Linked DNA regions of Homo sapiens. The protein of the gene in region 1 interacts with the protein of each later gene in a biochemical or structural test. Each region holds a gene or a part of one and is shown on either strand. Other genes may lie near its edges.

Region 1 (15,751 bases):
CTTTATGATCTGGTCAGAAACTACCTTTGCAGATCTGTTGATGACTCAGTGCCTCTGCTTACGCTGTTCCTTCTGCCTGAAATGGCCTTTCTCCTTCCTTCATCTGGCAAAATCTTAGCCATTCTCCAATATGAAGCTCATGTCAGCCTCCCAGTTCCAGACTGTGTCAGACCAAACTACATATTCTTTCTTTCGTGTACACTCAACACTCCTTATAGTCATGTATGCTATTCTGTTCAGTTCAACAAATATTAAGAGCCCTTGTCCAAGAATCCAAGAATTGTACTTGGTACTGGGGGTACAGATATGAAAAAGATATGACAACTGCCCTAGGGGAGCATACAAACTAGGAAGGAAGGACAGGCATATAAATAGGTAACGCAAATATTCCTTAGTAAGAGCCAAAATAATATATCTTTTTAAATGTGTCTTTCCACTAAACTGTAAATTCCTGCTCCGGGCACAATGGCTCAAGCCTATAATCCCAGCACTTTGGGAGGCTTAGGTGGAAGGATTGCTTGAGGCCAGGAGTACAAGACCAGCCTCGGCAATATAGTGAGACCTCCTGTTTCTATTTAATTTTTAAAAAATCTGTAAACTCCTTAAAATCAGGAATTCTGTGTGTGTGTGTGTGTGTGTGTGTGTGTGTGTGTGAATGTTTGGATTCTTAGCACAGTACCTAACACATAATAAATGTTCAGTAAATATTTGCTGAATTAATGAATAGATTATAAACATGGGCAGCATAGTCTTTTGTTTGTTTTAGGAAATGAGATCTTGCTATGTTGCCCACACTGAAGTCAAACTCCTAGGCTCAAGTGATCCTCCCACCCTAGCTGCCTGAGTAGCTGGGATTATAGGCACGTGCCACTACACCCAGCTCAACACAAATTTTTAAAATGTGAAAACATGGTATTTAAACTTGGATGATTAAAATAAAAATCAAACTCACCCTAAGTGGATTATCTCGGTTGGATGTTAGGTTAGCATTCTCAAGTGACCAGGAAAGATATTATACTAATAAAAGTGTGTAAAGCTAATCATTCACCCTGGAATAATGTCACTCCATAATAAACTGTATCCTATTTAAATGTACAAAGGACATGTATTTTGGGGCTGGGGAGAGTTGTTTTGCACTTTGCATCACATGGGATACTACTGGCCTAAAGTACTGAAAGTACTTTCAGAGAAACCTTCAGCTACCTAAAAGAGTTACTCCTCCAATGGTTCCAAGTTCACATGGCAATACATGTGGCCACTGTAAAGAATGACTTGAGAAATGTTCACAGACAGGCAGTCGATCTGTTTTTTAAAGTTCCTCATTCTCACACTAGCATATAAAAAATTCAGAAGCTCTGGTTGTTTTTGTGAATGAGCTCTCTTTCAAAATCTAATAGCATATCAGTTTATTGAGGAGAATCTTCTTCAGAAAATACTAAGATGTCATAATTAGACAAACCTATTGAGAAAAATAACTTATGGCATAGATGAGAACCATGCAAAATATAATATGTTTGGATTATTTATATATTGAGATTTCTTTCTTTTACCTTAAGCCTGTAATTTACAAGTAAGATTTCAGTGATTTTTATGGGGGGGTCTTATCTGTTGCTTTAAAAGTTGCCCAAACACTCCCAGTTTCTTCAGGGAAACAGAGCCAAGATGTGGTGTTCCCTTTCTCCCTAAATAGCAGTCATCCAAAAGAAGCCCATGCACCCAGCCGGGATAGCGCTGATGGCCAAAGAGCATTCCTGGATATTTGAGTCTTAGGAGTTTGCCCTCACATCTCGGCTTTCAGACCCTGAATTAATTGTAAAGTATTTTTATATTGCATCAGGCAAATTTTGGAGGTGACTTATGTATCATTTTAATGCTTAGATTTTGACTTTGATTTCAGGATGATGCTATGTGACTTTCAGTGGTATAACTGTATTATTGGAACAGAAGCTCTAAATGCTTGTCCACTGTGGGCATTATATCTAATTAGAAGACATTTTTTGTAGCTTTTTCCAGTACCTCTTTTAGACCATTTTATCACCATATGAGGATGACTTGATTTAGTTGTTGTAGCAACTGAAAAGCTGGGATCTTGAATCAGACCCACCTGGCATCAAGTCCTAATTTTGCTACTTGCAAACTGGGCAAAGTTATTTAGCATTTCTGAGCCTAAATTTCCTCAAGAAGAAAAAGGAGGGGGAAAAGGAGGAAGAGAAAGAGTAGAAGCAGAAAGAGAAGGCAAAGAAGAAAGAATAGTACTAGTGTACAAAATTGTTGTGAGGATTAAATGAGAATATATATATATATATATATATAGTAATTTAGATAGTGCTTGACACACAAGAACCACTTAAATTATTTGAGTGATTGTCCACTCTTACAGTGATTTGATAAACTACATTTGAGCAGATACTCTATTATTGCTGTGAAGAGATAGCAACCTCTCTTGACAAATTTTTATCTATTCAATTTGTTAAATGAATGAATCAACAAACTATCGTGGTTTCATTCTTAAAAGATGTGGGCTCATTTCTGATGGTCCCAAGGTGGAAAAGAGTAATTTCTTCTTGGCATGGATATTAGCTGAAAGGAGATCAGGAAAAATAAAGATCATATGTCAGAATGTGATGAAAAAAGAAAAGAATCTTATGTTCTTTTCATCTTGTTTTCCACCTGTGTCCCAGAGAAACCATTTACTGTTGAGATCTCCCCTGGACCCCGGATTGCTGCTCAGATTGGAGACTCAGTCATGTTGACATGTAGTGTCATGGGCTGTGAATCCCCATCTTTCTCCTGGAGAACCCAGATAGACAGCCCTCTGAGCGGGAAGGTGAGGAGTGAGGGGACCAATTCCACGCTGACCCTGAGCCCTGTGAGTTTTGAGAACGAACACTCTTATCTGTGCACAGTGACTTGTGGACATAAGAAACTGGAAAAGGGAATCCAGGTGGAGCTCTACTGTAAGTGGTTTTCAGAATTGTTTACTGTTTTTTTTTTTCAGTTCTATTGGAAGAAAAAGAATGCAAGTCTGTGAAGTGCAATGAAATCCTTATGTTTAGAAAAGGAATTTAGCCTTGTGAATTTTGTTCCTAAATCTGAATCAGAATGGTTTGATGCAATATAATTAGCTTAAATCTTAAATATATATTACATATGTACACAGCACCCACAATCCTTGGTTTATGCCTTGTCAATACTCTCTCATCATGCACTTGAACACACTCCATGCTGGAGGTGAGTGCATTGGGGTCAGTGCCCATTCAGAGGACTGGGTGGAGGTGACTACTGTTCAGCTACTCCAGTTGGGAATGAGTAGTTTTAAACTGTTTTAAGGCACTGTTTTAAAGGCACATTTGATGAGCTGTCTGCAGGATGGGAAAAAAATAAGGGAATAGGAAGCAGAAGGAAGCCAAAATTAAAGATAAGAAGTTAGATTGGGGATGGGGATGGTCAGTGTCAGTGGCTCAGGTGAAAAGCAGAATCAGGAAGCAGCGCTAGATCTTAATGTTGATTTATGCCACCTACATATACTACACTTTCTCTCACTCTTCTTTTGTCTTAATAAACATTCTTTGCAACCTCAAATCTCTATGAACTTGACATTGCTGGAGTTCCTCAGTCCATATTGAATGAAGAACAAAATATGCAAAGTGACCATAAAGTTATTTTTTTTTGAGGGGGTCACTCTGCCTTGTTTTATTCAGTAGAACTCAAGAGAACATATCGTAGAGATTTTCTACCAGAAACCCTGCCCAAACTTGTGTTACCCTTCAGGATTTTGTTCAGAATGAGTTAGAGTATGCCTGTAAAGGGATTTGGGTCTCTCCAAAGAAAGATAAATTTTATTTGCATTATCATATTACCCAGAGTCCATGATCTGCTGAGATAGGCACATTCCCAGCAGAAATGAGAACCAGCAGTGGGGTCTTATTGCAACATAGAAATATTTGAGCATGTATCACTTTAACAACATTTTGGTTAAGGAAAAAAATGTTTAAGCATTATTCTTGCCCTTGATAGCTATCTTAGTCTCATTTTACTGATTTGTACTGTATTATAAAGAATACAGTTAAGGCAGTTCTTGATTACAAGTATTATCTGAGAAATATTTAAAACTTGCTGCCTAAATTTGGTCATTAAAATTTAAACTAAGTTGAGAACTTCCTTGTTTGTCTTATTTGATACTGAGAGACTGCACAGCTCTGTAAAACCAAAGCTGGGCTCTGAGGTCAGAGAAATATGGATTTGCAGCCCATCTCAGTGACTTACTAGGTATAATGTGTGAAGAAAGTCTCTTAGCCTCTATATGTTTCAGTATTCCTGGCTGTAAAATAAGTAATACTCATTTTACACAGCTGCTTTGAAGACTGAGATAATGAATATTAGGGGACTAGTTTACAATAAGTATTCAACATAACATGGCAAATTTTAAAATGTGAAATATATACTTACTAAATAAGATGGTGGAAACTGATGTATACTTAGAAAAGGTCAAGCCATGGCACACAGCAAGATTGCATATTAAGAAGAAAAGAAATAAGTGAAAATTTATTACTCAATGACTGGATATACTAAGTAGTTTTTGTTTCTAACATTATTCATATATAATATCATAAATATGTCATTTATAAATACTGTCATTACTTATATATTGACAGTCATTCTATCCCAGGTGACTTAAAGCTGTCATTTTTAGGCCTTTACATTTAATAAAGCTTAGCTCAATTTTTCCTTGAATATCAAGAATAAAAATCGTTTTTGCTTGCGATTTGCAGCATTCCCTAGAGATCCAGAAATCGAGATGAGTGGTGGCCTCGTGAATGGGAGCTCTGTCACTGTAAGCTGCAAGGTTCCTAGCGTGTACCCCCTTGACCGGCTGGAGATTGAATTACTTAAGGGGGAGACTATTCTGGAGAATATAGAGTTTTTGGAGGATACGGATATGAAATCTCTAGAGAACAAAAGTTTGGAAATGACCTTCATCCCTACCATTGAAGATACTGGAAAAGCTCTTGTTTGTCAGGCTAAGTTACATATTGATGACATGGAATTCGAACCCAAACAAAGGCAGAGTACGCAAACACTTTATGTCAATGGTAAGTACATATGTGAGGTATCTACAGTTTAATACCTGTCTCTTTATCGTGTTTGCCAGGCAATAGTTAACATAAGGTTAATCGTTAAAACCTCTGTGGAGAAAAAACGTTACTGAAAAGAAATTTCAAAATAATGATGATTGTAACAAATCACCCTCCCTAAACTTAAAATAGTAACTATTTACTGGCTTATGATGCTTTGAGTAGGCAATTTAGGAAGGGACCAGCTAGGCAGTTATTCTGTTCAATATGGTATTAGCTGAGCTCACTCGTGCATTTTCAGTAAGGTTAGCAGGGCTGGCTGGTCTCAGATGACTTCACCCACATGTCTGGAGCCATATCTTGGATGACTTGGCCTCTCTTTCTTTATGTGGTGTCACCCTGAGGAACAGTAGCCTAGATTTACTCTCCAGAGCTCAGTGTTTCAAGAAGGTGTAAATGAAAGCAGCCTCTTCAAGGCCTGGGTTTGGAAGTCCTACAGTGTTACTTCTTCTTCCACATTCAATTGGTCAAAGTGAGTCATGAGGCCAGCCTAGAGATTCAAGGGGTGGAAAAATAGACCACATCTTTTCACAGAAGGAGATTCAAATAATTCACAGTCATGTTGACTCTACCATAAATGGCAGTACACACTATCATTGACCCTCGTCATTCTTTGGTTGCAAGGAAGTGTATACTGAACTTACTTCCATTAGAAAACACCATGACGTGTCCATGTTCTACTCTATCATTTGGTATCAGCTAAAGTAAATGAGGACCAAAACCTCTTGTGGTGAATTATCAAGGTTTACAAACTCTTTGAGTCTGCTGAATCCATAGCCCAGTTTTGCAACATTATTAAAACTCTTTGGAACTCAGGGCATAATAGGTCAAGCTAACAAGCGTCTCTGCCTTTTCAGTTGCCCCCAGAGATACAACCGTCTTGGTCAGCCCTTCCTCCATCCTGGAGGAAGGCAGTTCTGTGAATATGACATGCTTGAGCCAGGGCTTTCCTGCTCCGAAAATCCTGTGGAGCAGGCAGCTCCCTAACGGGGAGCTACAGCCTCTTTCTGAGAATGCAACTCTCACCTTAATTTCTACAAAAATGGAAGATTCTGGGGTTTATTTATGTGAAGGAATTAACCAGGCTGGAAGAAGCAGAAAGGAAGTGGAATTAATTATCCAAGGTGAGCAGAGTGTGAGTAATGAGTTATCCTTGCTAGTAATGTTTTTGGTTATGTTACTGATTATGAGTAAAGTCTTTGAAAACAAAATTTTTACTACAAAAGTGTGATGAGGGTTTTGAAGAGTTTATGATGTTTCCAATGTATGGAGAAATCTCCTGAAATTGTCTTTTCTCATGAATTGTTACAAGTTTCTTATCCTGAGATTCTTTTAAACTCAAGTGAAATGCAAGCCTTCAGGACCTGTGTCAGAAGTTCCAGTTACACTTATGAGGCAATGGTTATGGTATTGAAATAAGAATAGGAAGAGGAATATCTGCATTTGGGATTATGTAGGATTAAAGCTACCATATCTGGCTGAATTGAACTCTGAGTGGCAATCTCACAAGATGGCCAGTAGTATTTGCTTAGAAGCCTAAGCTGGCACTTAAGTCTTTTGCAAATTCTGAGATTATGAGTAGCCATGACTCCGTCCTTTGGTTCATCAGCCTGAGAGCATGGAAGCACTAAAGTAGATTAAGTCAACAGATCTAGGCCCCTTCTCTTTAGGATGGAGACCCAAGATTGAGAACAAGACAATTATTAGTTCGCAGGTTGAAGCCATACGGAGTTATGAGCAAAATCATCAGGTGATCAATGTGGATTTCCTCTATCCCATCCCTTTTGGGTATCAGGGTTCTTTTCTTTGCCAGGGTTGTCATTTTGTCTATTACCCCTTGGCATTATTCCCACTAAGATATTAGTGACTTTCTTGTTATCTCAACTCAATAAGATTTGTATTTTAGAAGAAGAATATTGGAAAGACAATACACATCCTTAAAAAACAGACAAACAAACAAAAAAACCTTTTGGATGGTTGTCATGACCTTGGATGGGGAAAGAATTTCAAATCAACTTACAAAATAGAAGACCTTAATAGGGATTAAAAATTGGTGATATGGTACCTGCCTCCAGTGGTTGTTGCATTAATAGAGATGTTATATGTCAAGTACTTAGCTCAGTGCTTGGAACTTAATAAATGGCAGTAGTATTGTTAAGGATAGTGAAAAAGCCACATCTGTACAGCTTAACTTCTTGATTGAAGAATCCAACTCAAAACTCAGAAACCTGTAAAGGCCTTTGTACTTCAAGGAAATTTTTTCAAAACAGTATTACAAAAAATTAAGTTTCTATTTCACATCTGAATTCTATAGCTCTTTATCAAACACTGTATTTGTCAATTTTCACACTGCTATAAAGATACTACTTGAGATTGGTAATTTATAAAAGAGGTTTAATACAGTTCCACATGGCTGGGAAGACCTCACAAAATGTGCAATCATGGCAGAGGAGAAAGGGAAGCAAGGCACACCTTAACATGGCGGCAGGCAAGAGAGAGTGAGGAAGTGCCACACTTTAAAACCAAAAGTTCTCGTAAAAACTCATTAACTATCATGAGAACAGCATGGGGGAAACAGCCCCCATGATCCAGTCACCTCTCACCAGGTTCCTCCCTCAAAACGTGAGGATTACAATTCAAGTTGAGACCTGGATGGGGACACAGAGCCAAACCATATCAAACACCTATTCTTTGTGCTAGGCTGGGTAAATAATTATATTAAGGAACATGAAAGAAGCATAAGCCATGTACTCTCTTAGTTAAAACATGATCATTTCCAACAATCCAGCAATGCTTGACTTCTTTACTTGCCCTTCTTAACATTTAATGCAAACGCTAAGCACAAATAGCTCCAGGGAAGCTATTGTTGATGTCGCTAAATTAATATGGAGTTGGTTTATATTTCACTCAATCAGGGATGTCTTTTAAATTCTCTTTACAGTTACTCCAAAAGACATAAAACTTACAGCTTTTCCTTCTGAGAGTGTCAAAGAAGGAGACACTGTCATCATCTCTTGTACATGTGGAAATGTTCCAGAAACATGGATAATCCTGAAGAAAAAAGCGGAGACAGGAGACACAGTACTAAAATCTATAGATGGCGCCTATACCATCCGAAAGGCCCAGTTGAAGGATGCGGGAGTATATGAATGTGAATCTAAAAACAAAGTTGGCTCACAATTAAGAAGTTTAACACTTGATGTTCAAGGTGAGTTTGTTTTGAGTTTTTGTTTTCTTGGTAATAGTTCAGAGGTTCCAAGGATTACTAAGAGTTTCCAATATTTGATGAATGAGTTGGCAAAATGGAGCTGTGGTTTATTTCTTAAGGATTCTTGGAAAAATCAAGCACAGCTGCTTTATCCTATAAAGTTTAGCCAGGAAGTTGACATTAATCATTCGTGACTGAGGAATTCCTGCTTGCTTTTTTCAGTTTACAATTTATCATTTGTCTCTGAGGTCTTGCAGTTGCTAAATGTTTAACCATATTTTCAAACCTTTTCCCGGGAGGTTATAAGGAAACTAAAGAAGTAGGATTGGCACATTGAAAAAGAAGGGTTCTATCCAGACCCTCTTCCTTTCTACCAGAAGGAAACACTATTTTCTGAACATGGAGTAACTGCAATTTTCTGGATTGACTCTTTTCAGGATAATAATTGGGAATAGTAAACTTGATCCTGAACAACATAAAAAAATCTCTCGACTATCGAAAAGCCTCATTAAAATTCCAACCCACTTGCCATCCTACTCTATTCTGGTGGACAGAGAAAGAGAGGAGCAGTATCCTCATTGGAGAAACTTCAGGGGCCCCTTAATCTCCTAAGCCCTCTTGTGAATGCACAGTAGGTAGGATCTGCTGATCTTATTGGTGTAAACAAAATACATCAGCCTTGGCTGATCAGTATCACACCCCTTGCACACCAATTAGCTGCTATTGTGTAATGGAGGCCATACTTGGCGGTGGAGTGCAAACAGGACTGCAAACAAATGCCAAGTCTTAAGAGGTCTGGCACTTGGCTATTGGAGTGAGCAATCACTTGTCAATGCAGAGAAAATTTGAATCTACATCAGAAACAGGTAAAATTTTTGTTCGTCTACCCAAATTTCTCAAAATGGCAAGCCTTACCGTATGTATGTTTTCCATCTTCACAGTACCTCCTCAAAACATGAGAATAGCTGTATAGCTATACATCCATCTAGAAATGTTAAAGAAGGGGAAAACATCACGATTATATATGAAACTTCTAGTCATCCACCTGCAGTGATTATCCTGAAAAGAATTGATCTAGCCAATGAAGTTACTATGTGTTCAAAGAAGGGAACATTTACTTTGTATCATGTCACTCAAAATGATTCAGGGGTATATGTAATCAGTGCTTCCAATGAGGTTGGGGATGATTCTGGACAGATTGCAATCTCAGTTATGAGTAGGTTGAATTTACTCATCCCTATTTTCTTTAATCCTTAATGCCTCTGGGCCACCTTTAATTAAGCCTAGCCCTGGGAAATTGGTCCCCTAACATTTCTGTAATTCTTTTGTTAATTAATTGTGACCTTTTAAAGACACATCAAACCTGCTTCTCTACTTTTTGACTCTGTCTCACACACATTGCTTTATTTTCTAATTGCTTTATCAAATTAGCCACTTACACAGTTGCTACTTTTTACTCATTATTTAAATGAACAATCAAAGAATATTAAGCGCTCAGCTAGAAACTCATGCCCCCAAACTGAATATAGTTTAAACTAGCTAAATTTTAATGAAGACCAAAAAATGGATATTTTTCTGGGTATTTTGAACTAGATTTCTTTTGCATTTGGCTGGATTTTTTATTTGTTTCATTTTGTCTTAGCTTGAACGTATTCCATTAATAGAAATCATCAGGATTTTTAAAAGATATTCAGTGTTTATATGACAAATAGAAAATTGTATTTGAAGGTTGCCCTGGCAACTACCTTGGCAGCAAATTTGTATTTTTCTGCCAATGCCTGTGGGGAAGACTGAAAGGCAAAAGATAATGTATATTACATTGAAAAGAAAGAAAGAAAAGAAATAGAAATAGTATTTCTGTTTCTCAGCATGTCATCAATATTGATGCCTATCCATAATCATGTTGATGGACATCCCATTCAAATATTACCTTTATACTTTGACTAGCTCAGCTCTAGCAAGGGAAAGTCAAAAAGTGAGACAATTATCATTATGCTTAGGGTGAACTGTTTTTCTTCAATAATTTGAAAAAGTGACTTCACATTATCTGATGCTCGTGATTCTTTTTACTTGGTTGACCTCCAGTGATTAGAAAGCTCTGGAAAGAATGTAGTAATCACCAAAGTCAGATCTCTAGTTTCTGCCAGGACTGAGACAATGTATATGCCACTTAGTGAAACTTAATACTTGTGTGGTCACATGATGCTGTGCAAAGTATAAACAGGAGTGAGTCTTCAGTAAATGACACACTATCTTCTTCAGCTGCTCTTATAAAGTTAAGATGTTAAGCAGTATAGCAGCTGTCAGATGATTTTTTAGCAGATTAGAAAGAATACTAATTTTAAAGTTTTTGTATGCTGTTACCTACTGTACTCCATTTACAACTAAGTGGCAAAAGCAAAATGTAGAGAGAAAAAAATGTTATTAGTGTTTAAAAAATATTGTTTTTGGTGCCAACTAGGCCAAGCAGTGAGTCAGGTGCTGGCTGTTCAGTGATGGACTAAAAAGAAAATAGATATACATGTCTTGATGTAATTTTTAGCTTAGGGGAGGAAACTAAACTTAATAAGTAATTACATGGATAAATGTTTAATTAAAAGCTGTAATAAGGGTTTTGAAGGGAAAACGAGTGGGTTTTGAAAATATATTGAGGTTCTTAATTTAGAATGAGGGAGATATAGATTAGAGAATGCCTCTAAGAAACATTTAAGCTGTAACATAACACTGTCCAAAGAACTCTAGTTTATCAAAAGATGATATAAATGCTGAAGAGGAAAAATGTATTAATATGCCCTATTTCTGACATAAAAAACATAGAAACTTCTGTATATCTCTGAGAAAGCCATTGGCAAGATTTTTTTTTTCTCTTACGATCTTATTTGTGGCATTTAGCTATAATGGTCACACTCTGAATATTATAAGGATTTTCTTAGAGAACTGGTTAGTCATTTCAATTCATGGTCATCAGAGTCCCAGTTCTTTAGTAGATATTTTTATTTCCCCAAGCAAGTGCCTCTCTCCAATTCCTGTTCTTGCCTCTCTCCAATTCCTGTTCTTGTTAAAAACTTGTACCCTCCCTTCCATTTTACAACTGAACCTGAATCTATTTGAATCCAAGTTTGTGGAAGCCAACAACTATCATCTTTAGATCCATCATGACCATAGCAACCACCAACTGATTATTTGGATAATTCAGACAAACATGCATCTTGGGTCCTGATGGTCCTTATCACTGCTTTGATTCCCTTCTCTTTGGAGAACTAGTTGTACTGTTATAATAAACATGTAACTGTTGTTATTAAATGCTATCTTTTTGTACTAGACATTAATTGCATCCATTTTGTTATTTTCCAGGAAGAGAAAACAACAAAGACTATTTTTCTCCTGAGCTTCTCGTGCTCTATTTTGCATCCTCCTTAATAATACCTGCCATTGGAATGATAATTTACTTTGCAAGAAAAGCCAACATGAAGGGGTCATATAGTCTTGTAGAAGCACAGAAGTCAAAAGTGTAGCTAATGCTTGATATGTTCAACTGGAGACACTATTTATCTGTGCAAATCCTTGATACTGCTCATCATTCCTTGAGAAAAACAATGAGCTGAGAGGCAGACTTCCCTGAATGTATTGAACTTGGAAAGAAATGCCCATCTATGTCCCTTGCTGTGAGCAAGAAGTCAAAGTAAAACTTGCTGCCTGAAGAACAGTAACTGCCATCAAGATGAGAGAACTGGAGGAGTTCCTTGATCTGTATATACAATAACATAATTTGTACATATGTAAAATAAAATTATGCCATAGCAAGATTGCTTAAAATAGCAACACTCTATATTTAGATTGTTAAAATAACTAGTGTTGCTTGGACTATTATAATTTAATGCATGTTAGGAAAATTTCACATTAATATTTGCTGACAGCTGACCTTTGTCATCTTTCTTCTATTTTATTCCCTTTCACAAAATTTTATTCCTATATAGTTTATTGACAATAATTTCAGGTTTTGTAAAGATGCCGGGTTTTATATTTTTATAGACAAATAATAAGCAAAGGGAGCACTGGGTTGACTTTCAGGTACTAAATACCTCAACCTATGGTATAATGGTTGACTGGGTTTCTCTGTATAGTACTGGCATGGTACGGAGATGTTTCACGAAGTTTGTTCATCAGACTCCTGTGCAACTTTCCCAATGTGGCCTAAAAATGCAACTTCTTTTTATTTTCTTTTGTAAATGTTTAGGTTTTTTTGTATAGTAAAGTGATAATTTCTGGAATTAGAATGGTTGTATGTTTATTTATTATAAACTGCCTCCTTTAGTCACATTGTAGCTCTTTCTGAAGTGCTAAGTTATAAGAGTAAAATATTCAAACTATGGAAATAATACGGATACTCAAAATGTGACCCTTAGACTACTATTATTAAAATTACTGTAGGAACTTGATAAAAATGTAGATTTCTTGGTGCCAGACTAAGATATTGAATAGAAGTGTCTAGTTTTTGGTCCTTGGAATCTGCAATTTTTTAATTTAGAAAAATATACATAAAAAGATTTAATGCAGATGAACATGCACATGTTAATGGGCAACAAATGAACACCTGTGTACAGAACATTAAGAGCAAGAGATAGTAAAACTATTCTTCAGAGCCTTTTATATACCACATAGTGATGGCAGCACTCTTCCCTCACTGAGCAGTAACCCATAAATATTGTGAATCATACATTGATCATTTCCATGCTTCCTTTGGAGTTTTTTTTTTTTTTTTTTTTTTTGAGACGGAGTCTCGCTCTGTCGCCCAGGCTGGAGTGCAGTGGCGCCACCTCGCATCTCGGCTGGCTGCAAGCTCCGCCTCCTGGGTTCACGCCATTCTCCTGCCTCAGTCTCCCTAGTAGCTGGGACTACAGGCGCCCGCCACCACGCCTGGCTAATTTTTTTGTATTTTTAGTAGAGACGGGGTTTCACTGTGTTAGCCAGGATGGCCTCGATCTCCTGACCTCGTGATCCGCCCGCCTCGGCCTCCCAAAGTGCTGGGATTACAGGTGTGAGCCACCGCGCCTCGCCCCTTTGGAGGTTTTATACCTGTCTATGTATCCCTAAGTAGTACATTACTTAGTTTTGCCAGATTTTGCATTTTATATAAATACAATCCAATTATACATTTGCCTTGTAACTATTCTTTCACTCAAAGTTATGTTTTTCATAATACATTTGTGTAGTTATAGGTCATTCATTTTTCTCCACTTGGAATGGATTTTTTTTAACTTTTAAGTTAAGGGGTACAAGTTTAAGTTTGTTACATGGGTAAACTTGTGTCATGGGGGTCTGTGTTGTACAGATTATTTTATTACCCAAGTATTAACCCTAGTACCCATTAGCTGATTTTCTTGATCCTCTCCCTCTTCCCACCCTCCTTCCTCCAAAAGGCTCCAGTGTGTGTGTTCCCCTGTATGTGTCCATGTGTTCTCATCATTTAGCTCCCACTCATGAGTGAGAACATGTGGCATTTGGTTTTCTGTGTTAGTTTGCTAAGGATAATGGCCTCCAGCTTCATCCATATCTCTGCAAAGAACATGATCTCATTCTTTTTTATGGCTGTATAGTTGGAATGGATTTTTTTATACAACGCAGGGTGGGTATGAAACAATTGTCCCTATACCATTTATTGAAAAGCTAATTATATATATGAATATATATATTTATATTCATAAATTAATATATATTTCTTTTTATAAATGTCTCTTGATTATTCTAGTTTTTGAACTTCCATATAAATTTTAAAGTCATTTTGTTAAGATATAGAACAAAAAATTAGGATTTTTAACTCAACTTATATTGAATATATAGATCACTTTGAATAGAACTGATATTTTTAAAGCATTGAGTCTTCTAATCCATGAACATAGTTATTATTTTTAGACTATCTTTGATGTCTTACAGAAATGTTTTTTTTAATTTCATAAACGCCTTATTCCTTTTAAAAATTTATTTCTATGGAGTTTGGATTTTTATACTATTATTCACAGTATCTTTAAAATTATATTTATTTGGGGTATAACTTTCATACAATAAAATTCATTAACTACCACCACAATCAAGAAATGCAACTTTTTTTTTATCACTTTAAGATTTCCATCAGGCTCCACTGCAGTGAATCTCCCCACCCACCACCTCCTCTGGCCCTTGGCAAAAATCAATCTGTTTTCTGTCACTATACTCTTGCCTATTCTAGAATTTTATATAAATGAGATTGTACAGTATATAGTCTTTTATGTCTGTCTTCCTTCACTTAGCTTGACTCTCCTGAGGTTTATTTATGTCATTATGTATATCAACGGTTTGTTATTTTTTATTGTTAGAGCATACCACTGAATGCTTATGGTAAAGCTTATTTATCTAGTCATCAGTAGACAATTGGGTTGTTTATGATTTTTGGCTATTGTTAATAAGTCTGGTATAAATATTTAAATGCAGATATTTATGTGGATATGTGAATATATATATATATATATATATATATATATATGGAGAGAGGGAGAGAAAGAAAGAGAGAGACCTAGGATTTTGGTCCCAGTTACTCTACATCTACATAAACACTTGGCATTTGTATTTTAAATTTTTGCCATTCTAGTGTTGGGTCATGGTATCTTACTGTAGTTTTAATTTCCCAATAACTAGATTGATCATCTTTTCATATATTTATCATTTTTATATATCTTATTTGGGGAAACATCTATTAAAACCCATCACCCAAATTTTTATCAGGTTGTTTGTCTTCTTATTGAATTCTAAGAGTTCTCTTATATATTCTGAATAGAAATTCTTTATGGAATATACATTTAGCAAATGTTTTCTTTCAGTAATTGCAGTGGCTTGCGTTTTCATTTTTTTTTTTAACAGTGGCTTTGCCTATCCCAAGGCAACAAAGATTTTCTCATTCATTTTTTTCTAGAGGCATCATACTTTTAGTTTTACATTTATGTCTATGACCCAATCCAAATTAATTTTGTGTATGATGTGAGGCCATGGTGAAAGTCATTTTTGCATATGTGTATTCAACCATTATAGCACATTTTGTTGAAAGGACTTTTTCTCTCATGAATTACCTTGACATTTTTGCAAAGAATCGATTGGCCATATTTATGTGGGGCTTTTTTTTTTTTTTTTTGAGACAGAGTCTTGCGCTGTCACCAGGCTGGAGTGCAGTGGCATGATCTGGAGTGCAGTGGCATGATCTTGGCTCACTGCAACCTCTGCCTCCCGGGTTCAAGCAATTCTCCTGCCTCAGCCTCCTGAGTAGCTGGGACTACAGGCAGTGTGTGTGGGGCTATTTCTGAACTTTCTTTTGTGTTCCATAGATTGATATATCTCTTCATACACAATATGACACTATCATGACTACTGTAGCATTATA
Region 2 (16,732 bases), on another chromosome or scaffold:
GGCAACATTGCTGGCTGGAAGGGAGGAGCGCCCTCTAGGGAGGGACATGGCCCCGGTGCGGCTGCAGCTCACCCAGCCCCAGGGGCAGAAGAGACCCAACCACTTCTATTTTTTGAGGCTATGAATATAGTACCTGAAAAAATGCCAAGACATGATTATTTTTTTAAAAAGCGTACTTTAAATGTTTGTGTTAATAAATTAAAACATGCACAAAAAGATGCATCTACCGCTCTTGGGAAATATGTCAAAGGTCTAAAAATAAAAAAGCCTTCTGTGGATATGAGTCCTGAAGGATGACACCCATGGGGTCCCTTTACCACGGTGGACCCTGGCCAGCACTGAGGCCTGGGGCCAGGACAAGAAGTTAACCAGAGTAGGGTTGTGAATATCCCTCTCTTGGAAGTAACCTGACCTCTTAATCTGCTCACTCCACTCTCAGGGCTGGTGCCGATGGTAAGCTGGTGGAGCTGTCGGGTGGAGGGGGCATAGAATAGAGAAGGGACAACCTCCAGTGGCTACTTTTCCACCTGGAAAGGTCTCTGGAGTGACCAATACTCACAAGCGTTTCCTACAAGTCCTAGGATGTGTTGAAGGGCACACTGTCTGCATATAGTGAGTGATTGAAGAACATGTTGGGGTCCCACATTGAGAGCTGCTGCCCACAATAAGGTCATTCTTGCTATTATGCCACCATCCTGGCATAAAGTTCATCATGGTGCTTGGCACTGAGCTGGGGGCCTCACAGGACAAGCCATTCCTGACCTCGGAGTGACGCCACTGCAGCTATCACCAGCAAGGGACCCGGGCCGTGTGGATGTTTCAATTAGAAAAACAGAAGGGAGGCAGTTGAGTGATTTGAAGGGAAGATGGAAAGTGGCCCTTTACCTCCAGCCAAAAATGTCTGTCCTATACATCAGCAGAGGCTCCAAAATCCCTGTGGATTTTGAAGCTTTTGAGTCCCCAGGATGACTAATTATTATGCAGTTTCCTCAGAAAGGGAATCAGAAGATAAGGCTTTGTAAGAATTCAGCCCTAATGGCTGGGCACAGTGGCTCATGCCTGTAATCCCAGCACTTTGGGAGGCCGAGGCAGGAGGATTGTTTGTGCTCAGAAATTTGAGACCACCCTGGGTAATATATTGAAACCTTGTGTCTACAAAAAAATTTAAAAATTACCCAGGCATGGTGGCATGTGCTTGTAGTCCCAGCTACTTGGTAGGCTGAAGCAGGAGGATCACTTGAGCCTGGGAGGTTGAGGATACAGTGAGCTGTGATTTGGACCACCACACTCCAGCCTGGGCAACAGAGAAAGATCATGTCTCAGAAAAAAAAAAAAAAATTGACCCTAGAGTGGTGTTTCTCAAAATGTGTTCCACGAACCACTGGTGGTCAATGATGGTCTTCTAAGTGGAAGGTTTTAGAGAAAAAGAGCAAGAAACCCATACATCTCAAACATTTGAAACTAGTGATTTGCACAGAAATAGTGTTGTGGCCTTAATAATTGTGTGGCACACGGACTCCAGGGACTACAGTGGGTTCTTGTCTAAATTCAGGCAACAAGTTGTTATTTTCTATTTTATTTTATTATTATTATTTTTTGAGATAGTCTCACTTTGTCTCCCGGGCTGGAGTGTAGTGGCACGATCTCGGCTCAACGCAACCTCTGTCTCCTGGGTTCAAGTGATGCCTCTGCCTCAGCCTCCCAAGTAGCTGGGAGTACAGGGGCGTACCACCATGCCCATTTTTATTTATTTATTTTTGAGACAGAGTCTCGCTCTGTCACCCAGGCTGGAGTGCAGTGGCATGATCTTGGCTCACTGCAACCTCCGCCTCCCAGGTTCAAGTTCAAGCGATTCTCCTGCCTCAGCCTCTGGAGTAGCTGGGATTACAGGCAGGCACCACCATTTCCAGCTAATTTTTGTATTTTTAGTATAGATGGGGTTTCACCATGTTGACTAGGCTGGTCTCGAACTCCTGACCTCATGATCCGCCCTCCTCGGCCTCCGAAAGTGCTGGGATTAGAGGTATGAGCCACTGTACTTGGCCGACAAGGTGTTATTTTCTGATATTCTTCCTTTGTGTGTTATTGTGTACATTTATTACATTTGCATTTTCAGGGTTGGCTATTGTGTTGCATTAGATCCCCGAATCACAAAATGGATCAATGGCTCAAAAGCATGGAAGTTGTGATTAAAAACTAATCTAATTGCTACAATTTACAATAATGTCATCAAAGTCAATATTGACTTTTAAATATTGAGCCCAGTGCACGTATAGTATAGACATGCATACCGGAATAAGTGATTGTGAGCCAAAACCCGAAAATATCTAGAAGGTATTATACTCCCTGACAGGTAGGTTGTATTGGTTCTGACATGTATTTGTCCCTAGTGTGCTGCCCATTCTGAAACTTTATCAAACAGTCGCATGAACCTCTGAAAGCTTTTGTGTTATTTTCTTATTTATTTATTTATTGAGATGGAGTCTTGCTCTGTCGCCCAGGCTGGAGTGCAGTGGCATCATCTTGGCTCACTGCAACCTTTGCCTCCTGGGTTCAAGTGATTCTCCTGCCTCAGCCTCTTGAGTAGCTGGGATTACAGGCGCGCACCACCACGCCCAGCTAATTTTTGTATTTTTAGTATAGACGGGGGTTTCACCATGTTGGTCAGGCTGGTCTCGAACCCCTGACCTCATGATCTGCCTGCCTCAGGTAAAGCAATAGAGATTTCTTAGAACAACTGCTACATGTAGCTTTCCTATTCAAAAGTGATTAGTGTTGTCACCGAATACAGAGGAGACAGCAAAACCACAGTGACATAAATCAAAGGTGCTTTTTAAAGTAGCAAAAGTAGGTACAAGTCACATAATTTCCAAGAAGCTTGTAGAAATGGCAGTAGAGTTCATACCTGTATTGAAAGGTTGCTTTTGGCTGCAAATAATAGAAAAAAACAAAAGCATGTAAGAGCAGACAGAAGACCTTTACTCTGCAAGAGGTTCAGGTGCAGGTTAGTGTTTAATGCAGAGTCTCAGCATTGACAGATTCTTTCTGATCTTCCAATTGATCGTCCTTGCGGGGGCGGTTTAGTTCTTTCCCACTGACTAGGATTGGGTCAAATTCCATCCCCTTGGTTGCATGCAGTGCTGAGAAGGTGAGCATGTGCTTTTCACAGGCTTAATAAAAAGAGGTAGCTCCAGCCAGGTGCAGTGACTCATGCCTATAATCTCAGCACTTTGGGAGGCAGAGGTGGGTAGGTCACCTGAGGTCAGGAGATTGAGACCAGCCTGACCAACATGGCAAAACTCTGTCTCTACCGAAAATACAAAAATTAGCTGGGCATGGTGGCAGGTGCCTGTAATCCCAGCTACTTGGGAGGCTGAGGCAGGAGAATCGCTTGAACCTGAGAGGTGGAAGTTACAGTGAGCTGAGGTCATGCCACTGCACTCCAGCCTGGGGGACAGAGTAGAACTCTGTCTCAACAAAAAAAAAAAAAAAAAGAGAAAAAAAAAGGAGGGTAGCTCCACCAGCCAGGAAGGTGGCAGCGCTGGTGGCTGTTGGATAGGCTACCTACAGTGTCTGGCAAATACTATGCTTGAAGACTATGCTGTGAGCAAGATTCCTTTGTGAAGGAACAGCTTGGACATTGTGTATGTCAGAGGTATACAGCAGAATAGCAGTGACTAACGCTTGTGTGGGAGAGCAAGCATGTCACCTCATACTTGGAATAAGTCACTGCCATACAAAGTCTGAATCAGCTTTCATCTTTGTGCAACACATGTATGTGGGAGCTTTTCAGCTGCTGAAACCTCTAGTGACAGAAAAGGAGGTTTTGTTGTTCATTTGTAATTAATGTTAATCCTATGAGTGGTGGGAGAGATAGTGAGGTAGGAGATCAGCAGGACCTGTTTTCTGGTCACAACCCAGCTAATCAGAGCATGATCTGGTCAAGATGGGATGCACTAAAAAAACAGCCCAAACCAGCAGATGGCCAGGAAAGCAAACTCTCATTACCCTCGCCACTTATTAGCATAAAGACACTCCCACCGGTGCCATGACAGTTTACAAATGCCATGGAAACACACCATAGCAACGGTCAGCAAGTTACCTCATATGGTTCTGGAAACTCCCCACACCTTTTCCAGATAGTTCTGAATAACCCACCCCTTAATTTGCATGTAATTAAAAGTCGGTATAAGTACAGTTAGCCAGCAGCCCACTGGCTGCTACTGTGGGCTCACTGCCTATGGGTTGTCCTGCTCTGCAAGGAACAGCTACCTTGCTGCCACTGCTGCTTCAATAAACCTGCTTTCTTCCACCACAGGCTCGCTCTTCAGTTCTTTCCTGAGCAAAGTTAAGAACCCTCCCGGGCTAAGCCCCAATTTTGGAGCTTGCCTGCCCTGCATCAGTAGAATGGGCTAACTACTTATGGTGCACTCAGGCTAAAGAGGCTGATGCTTGCAGGGCAGTATTCACAGAGCACACGGTAGTTCACGGGATGCCTCTCACCCTTGACTCAGTGCTTAAGAAAGGAGGGAAAATGGTGAACATGATCAAATCATGGCCATTGCCTATTCATCTTTTCAGTGTTGTATGGAGGAATAGGCAAGTAGGAGATTGCTTTTCACATTAATGTCAAAGAGAAAGATAGTTACTTGGAACTTAAAAAAATTAATTGTGATAAAATATACATAACATAAAATTTACCATCTTAACCATTTTTAAGTATAGCCAATCTCAAGAGCTCTTTCTATCTTGTAAAACTGAAACCCTATACCCATTAAACAACTCCCAATTCTCCCCTTTCCCTAACTCCTGGCAACCACAATTCTTTCTGTCTCTATGAATTTGACTGCTTTGGCATGTCATAGAAATAGACTCATACAGCATTTGTCTTTTTGCGACTGGCATATTTTGCTTAGCATAATGTCCTCAAGGTTCACCCATGTGGTAGCATGTGTCAGAATTCCTCTCCTTTTGAAGGCTGAATAATATTCCATTGTGTGTATATACCACGTTTTGTTTATCCATTTGCCCATCAATGGGCATTTGGGTTGCTTTTTTTGCCTCTCATGAATGATGAATATGGGCGCACAAATATCTCTTCAAGACCATGCTTTCAATTCTCTTGGGTATACACCCAGAAGTGGAATTGCTGAATCATATGGTAATTTTTTTTTTTTTTTGAGACAGAATCTTGCTCTGTTGCCCAGGCTGGAGTGCAGTGGCACAATCAGAGCTCACTGCAGCCTTGGTCTTCTGGGCTCAAGCGATCCTCTTGCTTCAGCCTTCCGAGCTTCTGGGACTAAAGGTGTGTGCCATCATGCCTGGCTAATGTTTTAAAAACGTTGCCAGGCATGGTGGCTCGTGCTTGTAATCCTAGCACTTTGGGAAGCTGAGGCAGGTGGATCCCCTGAGGTCAGGAGTTTGAGACCAGCCTTGCCAACATGGTGAAATCCCGCCTGTACTAAAAATACAAAAATTAGCTGGGTGTGGTGGCATGTGCCTGTAGTTCCAGCTACAGGCAGGAGAATTGCTGGAACCTGGGTGGCAGAGGCTGCAGTGAGCCGAGATTGCACCACTGCACTCCAGCCTGAGTGACAGAGTGAGACTCTGTCTCAAAAAAAAAAAAAATTTTAGAGATGGTGTCTCACTGTGTTGCCCAGGCTGGTCTTGAACTCCTGCCCTAAAGTGATCCTCCTGCTTCCGCCTCCCAAAGTGCTGGGATTACAGGCATTAGCCACCATGCCTGGCCTAGCTAAATTGTCTTTAATGTCGCATGTCTGCAAAAAACACATCTATAAAGCTAGAAAAGTTGAGCATCCAACTTTTTATGATTTAACTCTCATGACCTGGCAATTTTTCTAGCAAGGAGCCTGGGCTGGTGGTTTTAGGAGAACTGAGTGAAAAAAAGAAATACATTAACTAGATTGGATGCAAAGTGCCTGCTGGTCATGGGTGTTTTCTGCTGGCCCCTGTTCATCTGTGCCTGTTAGCCCACCCATGGGTGAGTGGGGCAAAGTGGCCAAACTGATTCTTAAGAGAGGCATACATGCAGAATCCAAGTTAGTCATGATTTCGTTTCTAGTCTGAGTGAATGTGTGTCCAGAATATTTTATAAACTTTATCAGCTCAGAGGGGAAAACCTGTCTCCATACTACGTGGTTTATACAAAGCTGTCAGGAATTCAGCATGATGAAGAAATGCACAAAACAAGTGTGAACAGATAAGTAAAAGGATCTACTGAAAATCTTCAGGGTAGTATATTGTGTGACAGGACCAAGAATTTGAAGTCAACATCTGTATTTGTGCCCTCTGGACAAAGGTATTATCCCTGATGATATAAAAATTAATTTTGGGCTGGGTGTGGTGGCTCATGCCTGTAATCCCAGCACTTTGGGAGGCTGAGGAGGGTGAATCGACTGACGTCAGGAGTTGGAGGCCAGCCTGTATCGACTAATAATACAAAAAAATTAGCTGGACATGGTGGCGTGCACCTGTAATCCCAGCTACTCAGGAGGCTGAGGTGGGAGAATTGCTTGAACTCGGGAGGCCGAGGTTGCAGTGAGTCGCACCACTGCACTCTAGCCTGGGCGACAGAGTGAGACTCCGTCTCAAAAAAAACAAAATTAATTTCGAGGCCAGGTGCAGTGGCTCCAGGTGCGGTGGTTCATACCTGTAATTCCAGTGCTTTAGGAGGCCAGAGGATTGCTTGAACCCAAGAGTTCGAGATCAACCTGGGCAACATAGTGAGACTCCATCTGTAGAAAACAAACAAACAAACAAACAACAACAACAAAAAAACCAGAGGTGGGAGGATCACTTGAGCCCAGGAGTCCGAGGCTGCAGTGAGCTATGGTCACGCCACTGCCCTCTAGCTTGGGCAACAGTGCCAGACTCTGTCTCTTAACAACAACAACAACAAAAATTAATTCTACTTTAACTGTCAGTTTCATGATATCCTTCTATTAAGAAAAACCTTTTCTATCTGATGAACTATTGGCTAGGTTTTCTTTCTCTCTGCTTTTGACTAATGCATTTAATTACTTTCATTTGCAAACTCTATCCTTCTCATCAACTTTGTATTTTAGATGTGTCTATTGACAGCCTGGCTTCCCTCAGCGATCATTATGATGATCAAAGTAGATGAATAGGTAAAATTCAATGCAAATATTCCAGGGCATCTAATCCATACCCCAAATGGAAAAGGGGAGAATTGGAAGCCAGCAATTTGAACACATTACTATGGATGTATTTTTCTCATGCGGGGGAAAAAGTGATTTGGAGAGAGAGAATTATGAATGCATGTGAAGAATAAAGCCAAATTTCCTGGGAGGAGGGGAAGACCAGGAGAAACAAAACCAAATCCTGGCTGTGGCCTCTAAGGCATGGGGACCTGGAGTTATGCTCTCCAGGCAGACACAGCTCATTCTGGAGAAAGGCTGCAAAAATATTCTCCTTCACATTGATTTGAAAACAATTATTAAATTCTTGTTTTCTTATTTATCTAAGTGTAACTTTTTAAAACTTACTGAGAGAAGACGGGCACGGTGGCTCACTGCTGTAATCCAGTACTTTGGGAAGTCAAGGCAGGTGGATCACCTATGGTCAGGAGTTCGAGACCAGCCTGGCCAATATGGCAAAACCCCGTCTCTACTAAAAATACAAAAATTAGTCAGGTGTGGTGGTGTGTGCCTGTAATCCCAGCTACTCGGGAGGCTCAGACAGGAGAATCACTTGAACCTGGGAGGCAGAGGTTGCAATGAGCTGAGATTGCACCACTGCACTCCAGCCTGGGCGACAGAGCAGGACTCCATCTCAAAATAAAAATTAATTGATTAATTAATTAAAAATTTACTGAGAGCTGGTGGTTCCTTTAAGGGTGGAGCCGCCATCAAGTCCCCAGAGGATGCCCTGAATTTGGGGGCATCACCTTCAGCTGCTGTGGACTCTGAGCCTTGGCAGCTCCAGCTCCAGGCCTGGGAGAAAGATGATTTCCTGGCAGCGTGCAGTGATTGTGAGCATTTGACTACCTTACTGCATTTTGCCCTTATCATTGCTCTCCAAACATGAGTGGAAAACAAAAAATTTTGCTGAGACAAGCGATAATACGAGTTAGGGAAAGTTGGAGAATTTTATAGTTGCTGATATCAGCAAATCGTGAGTTTCAAGCACTACTTACAGAAGGAAGTCCAAAATTAAAGGGGATATAGAAATGTGTAAAAGATGAGGTGTGGTGAAGATGGAGAAAATGAAGAGCTCTTTAAATTTCTGAATTATGAAGAATCACCAACAAATTATTTTGTGGTTCCAAATACAGGGAGAAGTTCACAGATCCACAGAACTGATGACAGGGTGCGGCCAGCCACAAACCTTTCAGCACAAGAGGGAGAAGGCTGCCGCTCCACTTTGCCTGGGCAGTCTTTGTAAGGCAGTAGATAAGTCAGCCTCGAAGTTAGCAATCACAGCCCTCGGCTCGGTTTCCTGCAAGGGCATCGTTAATGCATCACAATTAATTTCTTCTGTCCATTAAATGTCAGCTCTCAAGTAAATTGATGTAAAATTTTTGTATAGAAAACTATTTCATATTATTTGCACTTGATGTTTAATTACATTTTAAATGTTTTGTTTGTTTCATTTTGTTTTGTTTTTGAGACAGAGTCTTGCTCTGTTGCCCACGCTGGAATGCAGTGGTGTGATCTTGACTCACTGCAACCTCTGCCTCCTGGGTTTAAGCGATTCTCCTGCCTCAGCTTCCTGAGTAGCTGGGATTACAGGCGTGCACCACCATGCCTGGCTAATCTTTGTATTTTTAGTAGAGATGGGGTTTCACCATGTTGGCCAGGCTGGTCCCGAACTCCTGACCTCAAGCTATACACCTGCCTCAGCCTCCCAAAGTGCTGGAATTACAGACATAAGCCACTGTGCCCAGCCAAATGTTTTAAATAATTGTCACATATATATACAAAATAATTTATGTTATAGGTAGGGATCTTGTTATATTTTAACCTTCAAAGTATATTCCTAAGCTTTTTATTTATTTTTTATTTTTTATTTATTGAGACAGTCTTGCTCTGTCGCCCAGGCTGGAGTGCAGTGGCGCAATCTTGACTCACTGCAAACTCTACCTCCTGGGTTCAAGCGATTCTCCTGCCTCAGCCTCCTGAGTAGCTGGGATTACAGGTGCGCACCACCATGCCCAGCTAATTTTTGTATTTTTAGTAGAGACGGGGTTTCACCATATTGGCCAGAGCTGGTCTCAAACTCCTGACCTCAGGTGATCCATCCACCTCAGCCTCTCAAAGTGCTGGGATTATAGGTGTGAGCCACTGCGCCTGGCCTATTCCTAGCCTTTTATATATAGACCTTTTTCTTTTTCACATTTTAAAGGAACTTTTATGTTTAATCATGGAATATTTCAAACATACAGAAAAATCACAGAAAATAAATAACAACCACTCATTTATCTTCTCCCCAACCCCATGTAATAAATATTAAAATATTGTGTTAAATGCTAAATTTAACACATGCTAAAGGTTCCTGGCTGGATGTGGTGGCTCACGCCTGTAATCCCAGTACTTTGGGAGGAGGAGGTGGGAGGATTGCTTGAGTCCAGGAGCTCGAGACCAGCATGGGCAACATAGTGCGATCTCGTCTCTACAAAAAACAAAAAAATTAGCTGGGCATGGTGGTGTGCATCAGTAATCCCAGTGACTGGGAGGCTGAGGTGGGAGAATTGCTTGAGTCTGGGAATTTGAGGCTGCAGTGAGCCCTGATCATGCCACTGCATTCCAGCATGGGCGACATAGCAAAACTTGTCAAAAAAAAAAAAAGTTTCCTCTCTGCCCCACCATAGACAACCACTCTTCTGATTTCTATCTTCGTAGATGAATTTTGCCCATTCTCTTGTATATGAAAGGAACCAGACATTAGGCATTCTGGTGTCTGGTTTCTTTCACTTAAGATAAAATTGAGTTAACCTGTATTGTTGTACAGAACTGCAGTTTGTTCTTTGTTATTTATTGTAAAGACAGGGTCTGGCTATGTTGCCTAGGCTGGTCTCGAACTGTTGGCCTCAAGCAATCCACCTGCCAAGCTCTGGGACCACAGGCATGAGCCATGGCATCTGATCTGTAGTTTGATCTTATTTCTTGCTGAGTAGTAGCCCATGGCATGACTTTATTATTTTGGGTGTCCATTCTCCTCTGGAGGGGCTCTGCTTTTTGAAACCACACCCTGGCCTAGCTCCCCTTCTCCCTGCCTCTCTGCCGGCTCACATCCACATGCCAAGACCTCTGCAGCCATTCTGCTTCCTGTCCTTCCACTCCTGTGGGACCTCAGAGAGCTACGGGGCTCCCTGGGTACCAACTGGCTCCTGAGGCCTGGGGGAGGGTGGTCTTCTGGGAGAAGGAAGCCAGGTCCCTGCAGGTTGTGGAGGGGGACAGAATGAGGGTTTTTCCCCAGGGTGTTGTTGGCCCCTGCCCCCACTTCTGTTCCATAATTAACCACGCCCCTCCTACCCACTGTGCCCCTCTTCCTGCTGTGTGGAGGCCCTGAATCATTATTTTAACTACCCCCTGGGAGGGTGAGCACCTTCTGTGCTCTGTCCCCAACCTTCCACTTCCCCTCAACGCGCTGCTCAGGGATGACCTTCGGCACTGTGCTTCTTCTGAGTGGTAAGTGGGGCCAGGGTGCTGGGGAGAAGCTTGGAGGAGTTCTGAGGGGACTCCATCTGGGAGGGCAGGCTGGGGGCTGGTGGTCGGCTCCAACCACTCTTATGAGGAGCTGAGGCAGGGGAGTGCTTCATGTGCGAGTGGCCCGGAGTCAGTAGAGTGTGACCTGAATGAAGAGGGGCTCAGGGGCTGTGCTCAGGTGGCGACTAAGCTACCTCTCCAGCTGGCTATGTTGTCCCAGGCTTCCCTGCTCCCACTCATGGAGTCCCTGGTGTGGGTGACAGAGGTCTCCCCAGCCTCCCCCGGGAGTGGAAGGCCACAGAAGCCACCAGGGAGGGGGAAAGGTTGGACATCACCTCCCTGGGCCTGTTTCCCCCAAGTCCTGACTGCACGTAGGGAAGAGGCCCCCTGCTGAAAACTGCATCAGAGTCACATTCACGTGCCATCAAAAATCAGGCTTGGCTGGGTGCGGTGGCTCATGCTTATAATCCCAGCACTTTGGGAGGCCGAGATGGGCGTATCCCCTGAGGTCAGGAGTTTGTGACCAGCCTGGCCAACATGGTGAAACCCCATCTTTACCAAAAATATAAAAATTAGCCGGGCATGGTGGCGTGCACTTGTAATCCCAGCTACTTGGGAAGCTGAGGCAAGAGAATCGCTTGAACCCAGGAGACGGAAGTTGCAGTGAGCTGAGATCGTGCCGTTGCACTCCAGCCTCAGCAACAGAGCGAGACTCCATCTCAAAAAAAAAAAAAAAAAAAAGAAAAAAAAGAAAAAGAGGCTGGGAGGTCCTAGGGATTGGGGCTTCTTTAACTCCCAGCCTCCCCGCCCACCAAATATTCCTCAGTCCTGGCTTCTTATCATGGATTCAACCTGGATGTGGAGGAGCCTACGATCTTCCAGGAGGATGCAGGCGGCTTTGGGCAGAGCGTGGTGCAGTTCGGTGGATCTCGGTAGGCCCCACTCACCCTCCTTCCCCAACCTCCACTACATCAAGTCCTGTGGATGGGTACACGTGGGTTACCCCAGGGAGGTGTCCTGGAGGAAGGCCAGCAGGGGTGAGAAGTCTTCCCTTGGCTCCTTGGAGGCCCTGACATCAGCACCTATTATTCTCAATCCCAGGAAAGGCCACAAAACTCTAGACAAGACCCTACCTTACCTCGGGAGGGAAGCCTTGAACCTGCCTCCCAGGCAGGGCCCACTTCTTGGGGCCAGTATGGTCACACAGGGCCCACACTCATTAACTTTGGAGTTTAATGTTCTGCCCTTGACCTCTTGAAATTCCTGATTATTTTTATTTTTATTTTTACTCCAGCTCTGTTACCCAGGCTGGAGTGCAGTGGTGCAATCACAGCTTACTGCAGCCTCAAACTCTCGGGCACAAGTGATCCTCTCACCTCAGCCTCCTGAATAGCTGGGACCACAGGTGCATGCCATCATGCCTGTTTTTTGTTTTGTTTTGTTTTACTTTTTACAGAGATGGAGTCTTGCTATGTTGTCCAGACTGGCTGAACTCCTGGGCTCAAGCAATCCTCCTGCCTTGGCCTCCCAAAGTGCTGGGATTACAGGTGTGAGCCACCCTGTCTTGCCAATTCTTAAAAATTTTATCTGTGCATTTGTGTTTTGCAAGTAAAGAATGATGGCAGGGCTGGGCACCATGGCTCACGCCTATAATCCCAACGCTTTGGGAGGCTGAGGCGGGCAGATCATCTGAGGCCAGGAGTTTGAGACCAGTTTGGCCAACACAGCAAAACCCCATCTCTACTAAAAATGCAAAAAAAATTAGCCGGGCATGGTGGCAGGCATCTGTAATCCCAGCTACTTGGGAGGCTGAGGCAGGAGAATCGCTTGAACCTGGGAGGTGGAGGTTGCAGTGAGCCGAGATCGTGCCACTTTACTCCAGCCTAGGTGACAGAGTGAGACTCCGTCAAAAAAAAAAAGTCATGGGAGAAGGGAGATGCACTGGGGGTTTGGAGCCTTAGCTCAGCAGCAGCCCCACCTCCCACCGCCTCCTGAAGGGTGGTGAAGGGGTATCAGCTGCTGGCTCCCCCACCCATGTGGGAGCAATGACCGCTGCTACCTTCCGCCCCTGGCATGAGCTGGGTAAAGTCAGTTAGGGGCGCTCACTCTGGGAGTACCCCGAGGGAGTGGGACACTACATAGCAAATAAAAAACGTCAGGACAGGTTGAGGAAGAGAGCAGAAGAAAGGTAAGAGCCCCCCAACCCCAAGAGACCCCACAGTTTTATTTCAAATTGGGACCCACAAATTATGAACCTGCCCCCACTTCCAGGAGCTCACATTCTCCTGTCCCAGAGAGTTCAAGTCACAATGTGACACAGGTGTCACCAAGGTCTGGGGGGCGCAGGCAGGGAGAGAGCAGACCCAGGAGGGTTCCATGGAGGAAGTGGTGCTGGCAGTGAGCCCCAGTGGACAGGAAGGCTCAGTTGGTCACGAGGAGCTATAAGAGGTCACCGAGCTCCAACCGCGCACCCCTCTCCCTTCCTCATGTGACTGGCAGTCTGGGGGGATGGAAGCAAGCACCAGGCACCAGGCTTTTGTTTTTCTTTATTTGGAAATGTGGTCAACTGAGGTGCACAAATCTGAAAGACCCAATCTGATAAAGGATACACATGTGCGTGCCTGGGTGAGCCCCACCTAGGTCAGCTGCTCCAGTGTCAAATCCCACAGGCACAGGGCTGCCGTGGACCCCTTCTCATCACCCAACATCCCCAGAGAACCCCTGGTCAGACTTCTGTCACCATCAGTTTTTTGGGCCACATTTTAAAAAAAGAATACATTGGCTGAGTGCAGTGGCTCATGCCTATAATCCTAGAACTTTGGGAGGCTGAGGCGGGTGGATCACCTAAGGTCAAGAGTTCAAGACCAGCCTGACCAATATGGTGAAACCCTGTCTCTACTAAAAAATACAAAAATTAGCCTGGCGTGATGGCAGGTGCCTGTAATCCCAGCTAGCTGGGTGACTGAAATAGGAGATTTGCTTGAACCTGGGAGGTGGAGGTTGCAGTGAGCTGAGATCACGCCATTGCACTCCAACCTGGGTGACAGAGTGAAACTCTGTCTCAAAAAACATATGGGTTGATGGGTTACACTAAAGTTTTGCTCATCGTTTGTATCAGCAGGTTCCAAACTGCTACCTCTCTAGCCAATGCTCAGATTTTCTTCACAAAGCCTTAGGCATCCCCTGAATCATGATGCACAGGGATTGTAGCTTTCTGTAAAGGAGCGGCACCTAGAAGGAACCCTCACATGGCCATTTAATGAAGCCTTGCTTGGCGCATTAAAATACACCAGTATCTGTCTGCTTTTCTCACAGACAGGAGATTGTGGGTAGTGAGAAAACATTTCCAAAATTAAAAAACTTTCCCACTCAGGGAGTTTTGCAAATAAACCCTTGACTCTACATAACTATAGATATAGTTATGGATCCTAGTACACTGCTTTACATTGGCCAATTGAAATTGCTTATACAATATTTAAATTGGTCCAATGAATTACAGAATCAACTATTTGTTTTGAAAGCACATGTCTTCAGGAAATTGTTCCAATTAACTTGAGATGATCTTATTTCTTGGGTGGTTCAAAATAATGGCAACTCAGAAACGCAATGTGCTTACCCATGATTGGGAAATGCCATTTTGGTCTTTAAATAGGTTTTTTTTTTTTTTTTTTTTTTTTTTTTTGGTGAATGTTAAAAAGAAATTTCTAAACATAAATACACACATACGTACTTATGCACACTCAAAACCAAATAAACCCCAGCATGGCCCCTGGGCATCTGTGAGTTACACTTGGGCCCTGATTTCTGAATATTCTGCCAAGTGGCAAATGCCAGGAATTTCCCCCACAGAGTCTCGCTTCCCCATGGAGGGACACTTCCTCACCCCCAAGTGCCCGCTGCTCCCACCCCTCCTGTGGCTGCAGTGACATGGCCATGGTTGTGTCTCCAGACTCGTGGTGGGAGCACCCCTGGAGGTGGTGGCGGCCAACCAGACGGGACGGCTGTATGACTGCGCAGCTGCCACCGGCATGTGCCAGCCCATCCCGCTGCACAGTGAGTGACCACCTGGGAATTGGGCCCCTCAACCCTCCTGGACCCAACTGTGCCCCCGCTTAGCTTCCAGTCCAGACCTTCCCCGCAAATGAGTGTGTGCTGTGAGTGAGACCCCGCGTGTCTGCCCTTGCAGTCCGCCCTGAGGCCGTGAACATGTCCTTGGGCCTGACCCTGGCAGCCTCCACCAACGGCTCCCGGCTCCTGGTGAGTGAGTGTCTTGGGCCACGGGGGGGTGGGGTGGGGCGGGGGGTGTTGTTGGGGAGGAGGCTGGGGCTGGGAGTGAAGGAGGAGGGGCTGCTAGGGACTCCTGGCTCACAGGCTTCTGCCTCCAGGCCTGTGGCCCGACCCTGCACAGAGTCTGTGGGGAGAACTCATACTCAAAGGGTTCCTGCCTCCTGCTGGGCTCGCGCTGGGAGATCATCCAGACAGTCCCCGACGCCACGCCAGGTAGGTCCCTGGCAGGCCATGGTTCCCTGTGGAGCACATGCTGGCACTGAGGGTGAGCAGGCGTGAGGCCTGTGTCTGGGCCCCTGTGCCCTCCCTGGAGGGCCGAGTGTGGCTAGGAGAGAAGCCAGGAGAAGAGGGTGGCTCAGGCAGGAGCCCTGCTGCTCCAGGGTAGAAGTTCTTTGCAGGGTTTTTCTTTATATTTTTTTCTTTTTAAGACAGGGTCCCTGCCAGGCACAGTGGCTCAGGCCTGTAATTCCAGCATTTTAGGAGGCTGAGGTGGGCGGATCACCTGAGGTCAGGAGTTCGAGACCAGCCTGGCCAATGTGGTGAAACCCCTCTACTAAAAATACAAAACAAAACAAAACAAAATAGCAGGATGTGGTGGTGTGCGCCTGTAATCCCAGCCACTCGGGAGGCAGAGACAGAAGAATCGCTTGAACCCAGGAGGCGGAGGTTGCAGTGAGCTGAGATTGTGCCATTGCACTCCAGCCTGGGTGACAAGAGCAAAACTCCATCTCAAAAAAAAAAAAAAAACAAAAAACAGAGTTTCTGTCAGGCTGCATGCACCACCACACCCTGCTAATTTTTTTGAGACAGAGTCTTGCTCTGTCGCCCAGGCTGGAGTGCAGTGGTGCAATCATAGCTCACTGCAGCCTCGAACTCCTGGGCTCAAGTGATCCTCCTCCCTTAGCCTACTGAGTAGTTGGGACTGCAGGTACATGCATCACACCTGGCTAATTAAAAAAAATGTTTTTGTAGAGATGGGGGTCTTGCTATGTTACCCAGCCTGGTCTTGAACTCCTGGGCTCAAGTAATCCTCTGCCACAGCCTCTCAAAGTGTTGGGATGACAGGCATGAGTCCTTGTGCCTGGCCTGAGGGATGAAAGTTCTGATGGAGGCAGAGAGGAGCCCCACTGTGCGGGCTGTAGAGGGCACAGCATCTTCCAGTTGCCAACAGGTGCATGGCCACTTCTTGAGTTTCAGAGGAAGGACCTTAGTGTGGTAAAGAACGTGGTGAGGAAGATAAATCCATGAGGGAGGTGTTTCTTCTGGATGGTTCACTGCTGAGCTTCCAGGATTCCCCAAACTAACTTTCCTCTCGAAGAGGAGCAAATGACAGGGCTGCGGAAAATGCGATGTGCAATTTTGTCAGTGCCCATGTCTTCCACAGAGAACAGGGCCTGGGGACACCACCATGACATCTCTCTGAGGGTTGGTCTGCATCATGGTGGTTCCCAAGTTTGTTTTCCATGGGCACCAGGCTTCATTCCCTTGAAGCTTCATTCCCTCAAAGCCATTCAGTTTCCTCATTGGTAAAATAGAGCTCAATAATCAGGGGGTTATGAAGGTGAAAGGGATTGAGGTGCATAAAGCACTTGGAACCCTGCCTGGCACATAGTATGTGATAGCCCCTCTGACCCATCTTCCAGCTGGGGACTGCATGCTGGGACTGGGAGGAAGATACAGGCAAACTGTCTCATCTGCCGTGTGAGAGGGAATGCCAGGGGCCGCTCAGGGTGCTGACCGAGGGTGGGGCTTCAGAC

What was found.
Region 2: the proteins of VCAM1 (region 1) and ITGAD form a complex in vitro, tested with the Homo sapiens proteins (one study listed by BioGRID).

The regions. Positions count from the first base shown.
Region 1 is NC_000001.11:100,726,426-100,742,176, forward strand, and holds the end of VCAM1 (vascular cell adhesion protein 1 isoform a precursor), read left to right. Parts: intron 1-2,681; coding exon 2,682-2,957; intron 2,958-4,772; coding exon 4,773-5,093; intron 5,094-5,992; coding exon 5,993-6,259; intron 6,260-8,076; coding exon 8,077-8,343; intron 8,344-11,697; coding exon 11,698-11,858; 3' UTR 11,859-12,620; downstream 12,621-15,751. UniProt on the Homo sapiens protein: Cell adhesion glycoprotein predominantly expressed on the surface of endothelial cells that plays an important role in immune surveillance and inflammation.
Region 2 is NC_000016.10:31,382,722-31,399,453, forward strand, and holds the start of ITGAD (integrin alpha-D isoform 2 precursor), read left to right. Parts: upstream 1-10,613; 5' UTR 10,614-10,639; coding exon 10,640-10,670; intron 10,671-11,514; coding exon 11,515-11,620; intron 11,621-14,637; coding exon 14,638-14,741; intron 14,742-14,874; coding exon 14,875-14,945; intron 14,946-15,073; coding exon 15,074-15,188; intron 15,189-16,732.